Regions from separate parts of the Homo sapiens genome. Here region 2 is linked to region 1. Evidence: fine-mapped expression QTL. Tissue or cell type: esophagus mucosa. Region 1 holds a variant in brackets; the other region holds the start of a gene. All regions are shown on one strand. Distances are between the middles of the regions. Region 1 overlaps SHROOM2 (shroom family member 2). Region 2 holds the start of CLDN34 (claudin 34).

What was found. PIP is the estimated chance that this variant, and not a neighbour inherited with it, causes the effect.
Region 2: it holds the start of CLDN34, and the variant in region 1 is the best candidate, but not a certain one, in a credible set for the expression of CLDN34 in esophagus mucosa (GTEx, PIP 0.53).

Annotation. Positions count from the first base shown.
Region 1 is chrX:9,935,428-9,940,807 of GRCh38, reverse strand. SHROOM2 (shroom family member 2) reads right to left here. Exons shown (of 10, transcript NM_001649.4): 7 at 3,123-3,674; 8 at 1,442-1,613. Among named protein-coding and RNA genes, the nearest start is that of CLDN34, 29 kb to the left of the region's middle. RefSeq lists enhancers at 1-161, 246-1,445. The variant C/T (reference allele first, on the strand shown) is at 2,806.
Region 2 is chrX:9,964,675-9,970,054 of GRCh38, reverse strand. CLDN34 (claudin 34) reads right to left here and starts at 2,697. Exons shown (of 1, transcript NM_001195081.2): 1 at 1,703-2,697. The coding sequence starts at 2,697. The coding sequence ends at 2,053.

The sequences.
Region 1 (5,380 bases):
TCTCATATGTTCCCCTGAAGCAGCTACAGAGCAGGTGGCCTGCTAAGTCCCCATCTGCGCTATGCTCGCTTCCTCCCTGAACACGCCTCCGCCTGTGCACGCGTTGCAGGAATGTGCGACATCATAAGCGTGTGGCTGCGGGAAAGCAGGGAGAAAATGTAATGCAGCAGTGGCCGCTTTGTCCAATCAAGCAGGAAAACAGGACCGCTGAGTCATCAGCACCATAGAGAGCTGGGATGTACAGCATGTGCTTCTGGTGCAGGTGCCCAACTCACACTTGCTGAACTAAAGTGAGGCCAACTTCCAGCCCACAGTGACTCACTCAGTTCCGGAGCCACACTTCTGGTGAGGCGGCTTCCCAGCATCTCCAGCCTCCCAAAGCAGGTGGACAGAGTGCCCCACAGATGAGGGCGGCAGAATCAAGGCATGCCGCTTCTGAAATTCATTATATCATGAAAAACAAAGGCATGCGAGCAAAGAATGCAGTTCTCTAAACCTAGGGTGTGACCCAAATTCAAATGGTCCAGATGGTATGATTTTCCTGGTTCTGTGTGGAAAAACCGAACATGTTTTGGATTCTTTATTATTTTTTAAAAGAGGAATGTGCAACCAGAATGAAGCGAATGGTACCGTGTGCCAGATGGAGGGCCCGTAAAAGCCCCAAGACCTAAACCCTTAATTTTCATTTCCCTTTTTAATACCTTGAACCAAAAAGTTACCATCTTCCAGCCCGGAAGCAGTGGCTCACGCCTGTAATCCCAGCACTTTGGGAGGCTGCGGTGGGTGGATCACTTGAGGTTCGAGACCGGCCTGGCCAACATGGTGAAACCCCATCTCTACTAAAAATACAAAAATTAGCAAGGCTTGGTGGCAGGTGCCTGTAATCCCAGCTACTCGAGGGGCTGAGGTAGGAGAATTGCTTGAACCCGGGAGGCAGAGGTTGCAGTGAGCTGAGAGTGTGCCACTGCACTCCAGCCTGGGTGACAGAGGGAGACTCTATCTCAAAAAAAAGTTACCACTTTCTAATTTGAAAATAATTTTCCTTTATCTGAGGCAGGGGGATCGCTTGAGGCCAGGAGGTCAAGGCTGCGGTGGGCCATGATTGCACCATTGCACTCAAGCCTGCACGACAGAGCAAGACCCTGTCTCAAAAATAAATAAATAAGATAAAATGAAAGAGAATGGTGACTAAACTAATTTGACATTGGATCCTATTGAAACAGCAAAGAGACGTTTGTGGAATGGCTCAAGATTAGGACATAGAACTAACAACAGAGGGCTTCACTAATATCACCTCAAATTCCACTGTCCTGAGTGAAAGCTGAACACAAACGCCCTGGGACACGTGGTGCAGGGTCTGCGCTGGGGCAGGATGGTGTGATCCGGATGCCTGCCCCTGCCTGGACACGCACACGCTGTCATTTGGAATGGACTCTCCTACCTTCTTCACCGACAGGTCGTGGTCCAAGTCGCTTCCCGAATCCTCTTCGTGCTCCTGCTGCTCCTGCAGGTCCTTCATCTTGATCAGCAGCTCCGCCTTGGGGGCCGACGTGCTGTAGTAGGTAGAATTGGTGGCCAGGGACACGGCCGCAGGCACGCTGGGCTCCTCTTTCCTGGGTAAAGGTGTGGGAACTTCAATGAGCTGGGACTGTGCACGCAAACAGCCCCTCTGCCCCACCCCCTGGGTTGTGACAAATCAACACTGGTGCTCACGAAAGGACACCAGCCAGGGAGATGAGACAGCCAAAGGGGGAAAAGTAAGTAGGTAACAAGGTTAAAACTAAAAACCATCAACCCTGTCAAATGGATACTCGTAAGTGTATGAAACATAGTTTTTAAAAAAGGCAAAAACTCAAATAAGCAGGAATATCTAAGAATCTCTGCTACAGAGGTGAGAGCACAGATGATCTCTACCAGGAGCCTGGGTTGATGAGGACAAGGACATGTGTGACGCTATCTACAAACACCAACCCTTCTCCCTTCCTCCCAGCAGCCCTGTCGGCGCCCTCCTGCCTGGGTCCACTTGGTCCAGCTGCTCCTCCTTGGCTGTGTGTCATACCCACTCCACCTTCCTACCCATGAATGACGCTGTGCTGGCAGAACATATGTCAGCAGCAGGGAAGATGCCACCACGCATGCCTTTGTGGTCAAGTGGCTGAAGGAGATACGCTGAAAGTGCTACTTACAAAACCAATTAAAATACATTTGTTCAGGCAGGTGTAAATTGTCGTAATTTTTTTTCATTTCTATTTCAAGAGATGGGGTCTTACTCTGTCACCCACACTGGAGTGCAGTGGCACCATCATAGCTCACTGCAGCCTCCAACTCCTGGGCTCAAGTGATCCTCCCACCTCAGCCTCTCGAGTAGCTGGGACTACAGGTGTCTACCACCACGCCTGGCTAATTTTTTGTACTTTTTGTAGAGACTGGGTTTTGCCATGTTGTCCAGGCTGGTATTGAATTCATGGGCTTAAATGATCTGCCTACCTCGGTCAGCCAAAGTGCTGGGATTACAGGTGTGCACCACTGTGCCTGGCCAAATTATAATAAATTTTTTAAATGCAGATGTAAAAAAATTTCAAATAAAGTTTTAAAAAAACATTTCATAAAGAAACACATATATATTCAATCTAAGCCTTCATTCTCATGTTGGCACTAGGGACACGTGGGGGCTGGATGACTCTCTGTGGGGGGGGCCCTCCTGTGCACTGTAGATGTTGAGCAGTGTTCCTGGGCTCCACCCACCAGATGCTTGGAACACCCCTCCCCACAGTGACATTGCCAACTGTCCCCCAGGGTAGACAG[C/T]GGCCCCCACTGAGAACAGCTGTCTTACGAGAAAGGAGACCTGTGGGCATCATCAGAAATCCTGCTGGCCTCAGGCCAAGGCAGCTTGGTGGTCTGCAGTGTGTATTTTCATGTCAGGCCCAAAGCCGTTAACCCTCCATTTCTCTTTCCGGAGGCTCACAAAAAAGCCAAAAAGTGCTAAGCATCGAGGAGCCCTTATGAAAACCCGTCTTCCCCAAAAGCACGCATGAAAACAGAGAGGCAGACCCCCTTCCCTTTACAAGCCTAAGAGATGCCAGGCAGAGTCACGCCCAAGCTGGGAGGCCACGCCTACTCACCTCTCCTCTGTGCTTCTAGGAGAGGGGATTTTGGGGAGCAGCTTCCTCCGTTGCTGGGCTTCTTCCAGGAGGTGCTCGTCTTTGGGGAAGATGCCTTCCATCAAGTCCATAGTGGTTTTGATCTTCACACTGGGATCCAGGATGTCGGCCAGGGACTTATCCTTCCCCACGATCTCCCTGGCCAGCTCCTCCGACTTCAGGTCTTCCACAGTCTTCTCTTTGGCCTTCATGTAGCTGAGCCCTGGAGGGGAGGTGCAGCGGTCTTTCTCGGGGGGCACCTGGGTGCCCAGGGGCTGGGGCTCAGCCGGCTGGGCCCTATGTGGGGCCTCGGGCTCAGCACCCTGCCGCGTGTACAGACAGAAGCGCGAGTAGAACTGCTCAGATGTGCTCAGCGTCTTGATCTGGTCTTTCTCCAGCCCGTGGGGCAGGGCAGGTGGCTCGGCGGGGCATGCCAGGCTCTGGCGGCTCTCCTTCTCTGGCTGGCTCTCCGAGTGCACGATCTTGATGGGCACCATCTTCACCGTGGTGTTGTTGTCCATCACCCGCTCAATTCTGGAAGATGAACAGTCTGCTGAAATCGCAAAGCATGCTCCAGCCACAGACCCTGATTGACGTGTCCCCTGCCCTCCCCTCTGGATGGGAACCTGACTCAAAGGCACTAGCCAGCCACCCAACTCGAAGGAGCCTCCATGATCCCACATCCTGGATGAGGCAGAGGCCTCAAGAAGCTCCCTCTGACTCCTACCTCCGCCTTCCAACCACAGCATCCTTTCTATGCTCAAACCGCCAATGCCACCCCTGAGGCATCCCAAGGTGTCCTCCAGGGGTTCGTGGAGGGCTGTGAGGACTATTTAATACCATTTGTCATTCCGCAGATGATAATGCAAACTTCAACAAGCCCTGTTGGGTTAAATGTTCTTTTGTAGGGGAAGCCTGCAGTGGATGGGCATTTTCCAGGATTCCCATCCGTCCTTAGGTTGGTGCAGGCCCGCGGGTTCCTGCGTAGTTCTCAGGGCCTGGGGAGGGCTCCTCTCCGGAGTGGCCGTGCTTGGAGTCAGGCCAAAGCCCCCCACCACCCCACTTGGGAGAACCTCCTGTGCCATATGCAGGACAGCCCACCCAACACTGTCCTTGTACCCCCCGCCCGCTGTGCTTCAAGCTAGCGTTGCACAGATTTGCACACCAGTGAGATACGATCTCGCAGTAAGCAGCGAGTCATCGGTTCTGTATTACTTCCAAAGGGCACAGTTTTGCTTTTTTTTTAAAAAAGTGTCAGCCAGATGTGGTGGGTCATGCCTGTAATCCCAGCACTTTGGAAGGCCGAGGCGGGTGGATCACTTGTGGTCAGGAGTTCGAGACCCACCTGGCTAACATGGAGAAACCCTGTCTCTACTAAAAATACAAAAATTAGCCGGGTGTGGTGGTGCGCACCTGTAATCCCACCTACTCGGGAAGCTGAAGCATGAGAATCGCTTGAACCTGGGAAGCAGAAGTTGCAGTGAGCTGAGATCAGTGACCTGAGATCACACCACTGCACTCTAGCCTGGGCAACAGAGCAAGACTCCATCTCAAAAAAAAAAGAAAAGTTTCTGGATGAAAGGGACTAGAGAGGTACCTAAAGCATCCCTGGGAGACTGGGGGAGAGAGAACAGGAGGAACAGGCCCAGCAATGCCACAGTCCCTTGTCTGGGGCAGCCCTGCACCTGCTGCTCTCAGCGGCACCGTGCTAGACCATGCTGACCAGGGCCATCTCAGCCAAGAGCTTTTCAGAGCACTGGAGAAGCAGCCCCATATGCTGGTGGTCAGGAGGGAAGCAAAAAGAAACAGGCCAAACTCCACAACCCCAAATTAGGATGTGTTTCTAATGAAGTCAACCCAAAACTGCCCCTACGATGTTACACAAATGTATCCAATTTTCCACAGCAGGAGGGCAGCCACGATGCTCTAAATTTAATGCTGTTTTTCCCTCTTTCACTGGTGACTGGGAATGCAGGAGGGCTCTTTCCCTATCAAGGCAGTGGTGCTCAGGCTGAGATGAACTAACTGCGTATTTTCCTCCCTCTCTCCAGTAGGGTTCAGCAACATCTGATGTGTTTTATCTAGGGACTCACAGACACCTCACAACTGCTTCCTCATGAAGACAATTTACAAAGTCTAACTGTGGAAAATACCATTTAGATAGGTCAGACTTATGAAGGAAAACCCTGGCTAGGCACAGTGGCTCACACCTGGAATCCCAGCACTGTGGGAGGCTAAGG
Region 2 (5,380 bases), 29 kb before region 1:
ATCAATAGATGAAACCATTAGGGTTGGGTGGAAGTTTTATGAAGCAACTTACAAAAGGGATCAGGCGTTCCCTTCATGGATCCACTGATCAATGTTAGCATCACTGAAAGGGATAATGACCATGTACCCCTGGCATAGTGCAGTCAGCAGGAAGTACGTGGTACCACCTATGAAATACTCTTCCTGAGAACTGACCAGGACTCTAATCAAGCCTCTAGAGGTAACGAGTTAAATTAATCCACTTTCTTCAGCAAATCAAAATCATTTATTAAAAAGGCACATGAGGTCAGGCACGGTGGTTCTCACATGTAATCTCAGTGCTTGGGAGGCTGAGGCAAGAGGATCGCTTGAGCCCAGGAGTTCAAGACCTGCCTGGGCAACATGGCAAGACCTCATCTTTATAAAAATACAAAAAATTAGGCAGGCATGGTGGTGCACGCTTGTAGTCCCATCTACTTTGGAGGTTGAGGTGGGAGGCTCACCAGAGCCTGGAGGTCAAGGCTGCACCAATCCTTGATCATGCCACTGCACTCCAACCTGGGTGACAGAGTGAGACCCTGCCTCAGGGAAAAAAAAAAAAAAAAAGGCAGAGGGGTTGCTCTGTGTGTGTGTGTGTGCGCGCGTGCACTGGGGGAGTGTTTTAGATGGACACTTCAGAGGCAGAGTGAGCACTTTGTGTGGGACAAATAAAACTACAGAATTATTTTTAAGGCATCTAAACATTCTGACTATTTCATAATGAGGAATAACTGCTCAGTTTTTTACATATATGGTTATGTGAGAAGTGTCCACTTTTTAAGAGTATATGGGGATGAAGGGACATGGTGTCTGGGACATGGTGTCTGGGGTTTGCTTTAAAATACTTAGGAAAAAGAGGCCGGGTGCAGTGGCTCACACCTGTAATCTCAGCACTTTGGGAGGCCGACGCAGGCGGATCACTTGAGGCCAGGAGTTTGAGACCAGCCTGGCCAACATGGTAAAACCCCAATATTTTTAAAAATACAAAAATTAGCCAGGCATGGTGGCAGGTGCCTGTAATCCCAGCTGTTCGGGAGGCTGAGGCAGGAGAATCGCTTGAACCTGGGAGGCAGAGGTTGCAGTGAGCTAAAATCACGCCACCGCACTCAAGTCCAGGCGACAGAGCAAGACTCTGTCTCAAAAAAAAAAAAAAACTTGGGAAAAAGAAACATAGATTAGAAAGGTAAAAGAATGGAAAGAGAAAGCAGAAGTGCCCTAATCTCAGTAACTGTGGAGTCTGGCAATGGGTGTGTGGAGATTCCTTATGCTATCCTCTCTACTTTTGCACATTTTAGAAAACTTTATATGGTAGGGAGATGTTATTACCATGACATAGAAAATAAGGTCCATTCTTGGTTTTTTGTTTATTGGAGTTTTTTTAAAGAGTCAGGGTCTTGTTATATGGCCCAGGCTGGAGTGCAGTGGTGCCATCACGTCTCACTGGAGCTTCCAACTCCTGGGCTCAAGTGATCCTCGCACTTCAGCCTCCCAAGTAACTAGAATCACAGCCACGCACCACCACACCCAGCTATTTTTTTTTTTTCTTGTAGAGACCAGGTCTTGCTATGCTGCCCAGGCTGGTCTTGAACTCCTGGCCTCAAGTGATCCTCCCACTTCGGCCTCCCAAAGTGCTGGGATTACAGGCGTAAGTCACCATGCCTGGCCTATGATTGTTTGTAGCAAAAGTTTAAGAGGGAAATGTGAGAAGTTAATGTACTCAGAAACTCTTATTTCCCTACTCTTAGTTTACAGGGTTGATTATTTGCTGTAGCCAACAATAATTAAAATTCAGATGCAATAAGACCAACTGGCAGGTGGGAAGACTTTTAAATAAAAGTTCTCAATTCAACCAACAAATCAGTGAGCCACATTCAGATACACAAGATAACAGAAGGAGGCAGTTGGCCACCTTCTGTCCCAAACTACCCATGCCACGGTCTTGAGTCGTTGGAAATATTTGGTAGAGCATGCTAATAACATTTTCCATAAACTCCCAGAAATCTTAGATTTGCAAAGCCAATGCAACCAGGAAATTCACATTTCTGAAATACCAGGATGCACTTGGCCGTACGGGGGACATTTGTAAAACAGAGAAAACATCCCAGTTAACAGCATCGGCAAGACACCTATCCCTGCCACTTGAATGGCAGTGCCAACTTCCTGCACATCTGGCTTGAAGGGCATTTGGAGAGATGGCAGGAAGGTGATCCCCTGTGAGTTTATGACGGCATCGTAGTTCTGGAGCACAGCAATTAAGTTAAAGACACCAGCAGCAATGTTGAGAATTCCTGAAACAACGAATGAATTGTAGGTGTCCTCCTCAAACATTCTCATGGACATGTTTCTAAGTGCAAACATGTTAAAGGCTCTCCCGAAGAATCCGAAAATGCTGGCAGTCAGTAGGAAGCGTTGAGCCATGGAAATTTCAAAAGGGAGAAAGGTGTCCTGGTAGCTGTATCGGTAACAAAATTTGGTTGTGGTGCTGTTGGTGCGACGCCGGTAAATGCAGACTCTAAATATTCCCACGCAGGCGATTCCAGGGGGGTAGAGCGAGGTGTCTTTCATGTACCATATTCGCCACTCCACGAGGCCCGTGGACGTAGAGGAGAGGATCCATCCTATGGTGGTAAGGGCGAAGACTGAAAATTGGCAGTCGGCACTGTTGCAGAACCAGACCATGGTGGCAGCGCACCCAGGAAACTACAAACAAATACAGAGCATGGTGAGCGGGGGGACCCTGGGACCTGGGACAGCCTCCCATGGGTGAGTAGCGCCAAGAGGGAGGTGTTGTATTGGAGAAAGGAGACACTAGACCCTCTAGATCTGCTGGTGGGAGTGCAGTCTGAGCAAACTTTGTGCAGGGCCGCTCCGCGATATTTCCCGAAAGCTTTAAAATGCACACACCTTCAGACTGGCAGTTCCACTTCTGGGCATTGGTGCAAAGACATGAATAAGGTCGGCCACAAATATGTAGCCACAAAGATGGTCCTCACAGCATTGCTTGTAATATTGGAAACCGGGGAACAACGTCAAGTCCAACAACAGGGCTTGGTGAAGGAATTTATGCTATGTCCACGCGATGGAGCTATACGCCAACATTGACAATACAAATGGAATCATACAAGGTATAAGAGTTTTGTGTGGCTCTTTTCACATGGCACGTTTCCAAGGGTCATCCATGTTGCAGCAGGTATGAGAAGGTTGTCCCTTTTCATTGCTGAATGGTGTTCCATTGTGTGGGTAGACCACAGTTTGTTCATTCATCAGCTTTTGGACATTTGGTTTGGTGCCATGTTTTGGCCATTATAAACTATGCTGTCATGAACACTTGAATATAAAAGTTTGTATGGGCATATGTCCTTGTTTATCTGGTGTAGATGCCTAGGAGTGAAATTGGTGGTTCATATGTTAAGTGCGCATTTAACTTTTTGTAAATTGCTCAACTGTTTTCCCACGTGGCTGCACCATTTTATATTCCCACCAGCAATGATGGAGGTTCCAGTTTCTTCATATTTTCTCCAACATTTGGTATTTTTAATGTTTTTCATGACAGCCATTCTAGTTGACATTCTGTGTGACCAAAAGGGAGGTGTCCGTAATATTTCAAATACAAATTACATGTTTCAAAATAATATGTACGATATAATCATAGATACAAATCGAACTGAAAATCTACATCCTAAGCTATTAGGAGACATTTTTAACTGGGTTTGAGAGATTCTGAGTTTTTTCTAAGCTATTTGGATTGTGAAGGGTCACACACATATAGAAAAGCACACAAGTGTGCAGCTCAATGAACGATGGTGGGGTGAACACCCATGGAGCCAGCATTTCATTTCAGATACACAATATTCCCACTTCCTTGCTTGCTTTCATAGTTTTGTCATCTCAGCATGCATCCCCACACATCTTACTTCTATTTTGCCTGTTTTTCAAAATGGGGATCATACGGTCAATGCTTTTGTGTGACTGGTTTCTTTCACGCAATGTTGTGTCCATTTATGACACTCAGATTGTAATTTTTTAAAGGTGCCTGGCTGTTCAGTATTTTCAAATATTTCTGCAATAAGCATGATTATTTAAAACAAGAAAACAATAAAAAATATTTCACAAAACAGTTGTCTCGGGAAACTTGCTTGAGCCGAGGAGTTTGAGACCAGCCTGGGCAGCATAGCAAGACCATGTCTCCAATAAAATGTTGTCAAGCAATGGAAGATTCATTAGTTTGAGTACATAAATACACTTTACTACCTAGTATATGTTAAAATGAAGCCAATCATTTATTATAATACTTTGCAGATAGTAAAGTAGAAAAAGATTTAGTAACGTGAGAAAATGTCCATGGTGGGTTGGATCTAAAATGCAGATAACAAACTCGTTAGTATCTATAGTAGTATCATCTTATTTTTGCCTATCATAAAATAGGCTGGGAAGACAAAACAAGATGCATCTGAATATTAGGATTACTGGTGATTTCTCTTTTCGTGTCTTAAGGTCTATTACTTTTTTAATTGGAAAAAATGGTGAGCATACAGAGACACAAACATAAAAGTGTATTAATTAATTATTACCAAGAGTAAGGCCAGGCATGGTGGCTCACACCTGTAATCCCAGCATTTTGGGAGGCCGAATAGGGCAGATCTCTTGAGGTCAGGAGTTTGAGCCCGGCTTTGCCAACATGGTGAAACCCCATCTCTGCTAAAAATACAAAAATTAGCCGGGCATGGTGGTGCACGCCTGTAGTCCCAGCTACTCGGGAGGCTGAGGCAGGAGAATCGCTTGAACTCGGGAGTTGTAGGCTGCAGTAAGCAGAGATAGAGCCACTGCACTCCAGCCTGGGCAACAGAGCCAGACTCCGCCTAAAAAAAAAATTATTATCAAGAGTAATAAAAACATGGCTGTCTCCTGACCCAATCTCCTATTTCTTGGAACCAATTCTAGTGGACAAATCAGAGAAGTGGGATCAAAGTGTCTGGGCACTGATGCTCACCAGGGGTGTTGTTGACACTAGGAATAAGAGAAATCTGGAGACAAGTAATATGTGAAGCAATACGGATGCTTAAGTACATTTCATAATTCCAGGTGATATAGCATACTATTCAACCATTTACAATGAAGTCTTCAAAAGCATTTTAGTGACAGGAAATTGTCACTGTTTGCTAAGTGGGAAAAGGATGCAAAAGAATGTATAAATATACATGTTGTTTTATATATATATGCGTTTGTGTGTCTCCTTGTGTGTTTGTGTTTGTGTGTGTTGTGTATTTGTCTGTGTCTCCTTGTGTGTGTTTGTGTCTCCTTGTGTGTGTTGTGTATTTGTCTGTGTCTCCTTGTGTGTGTTGTGTATTTGTCTGTGTCTCCT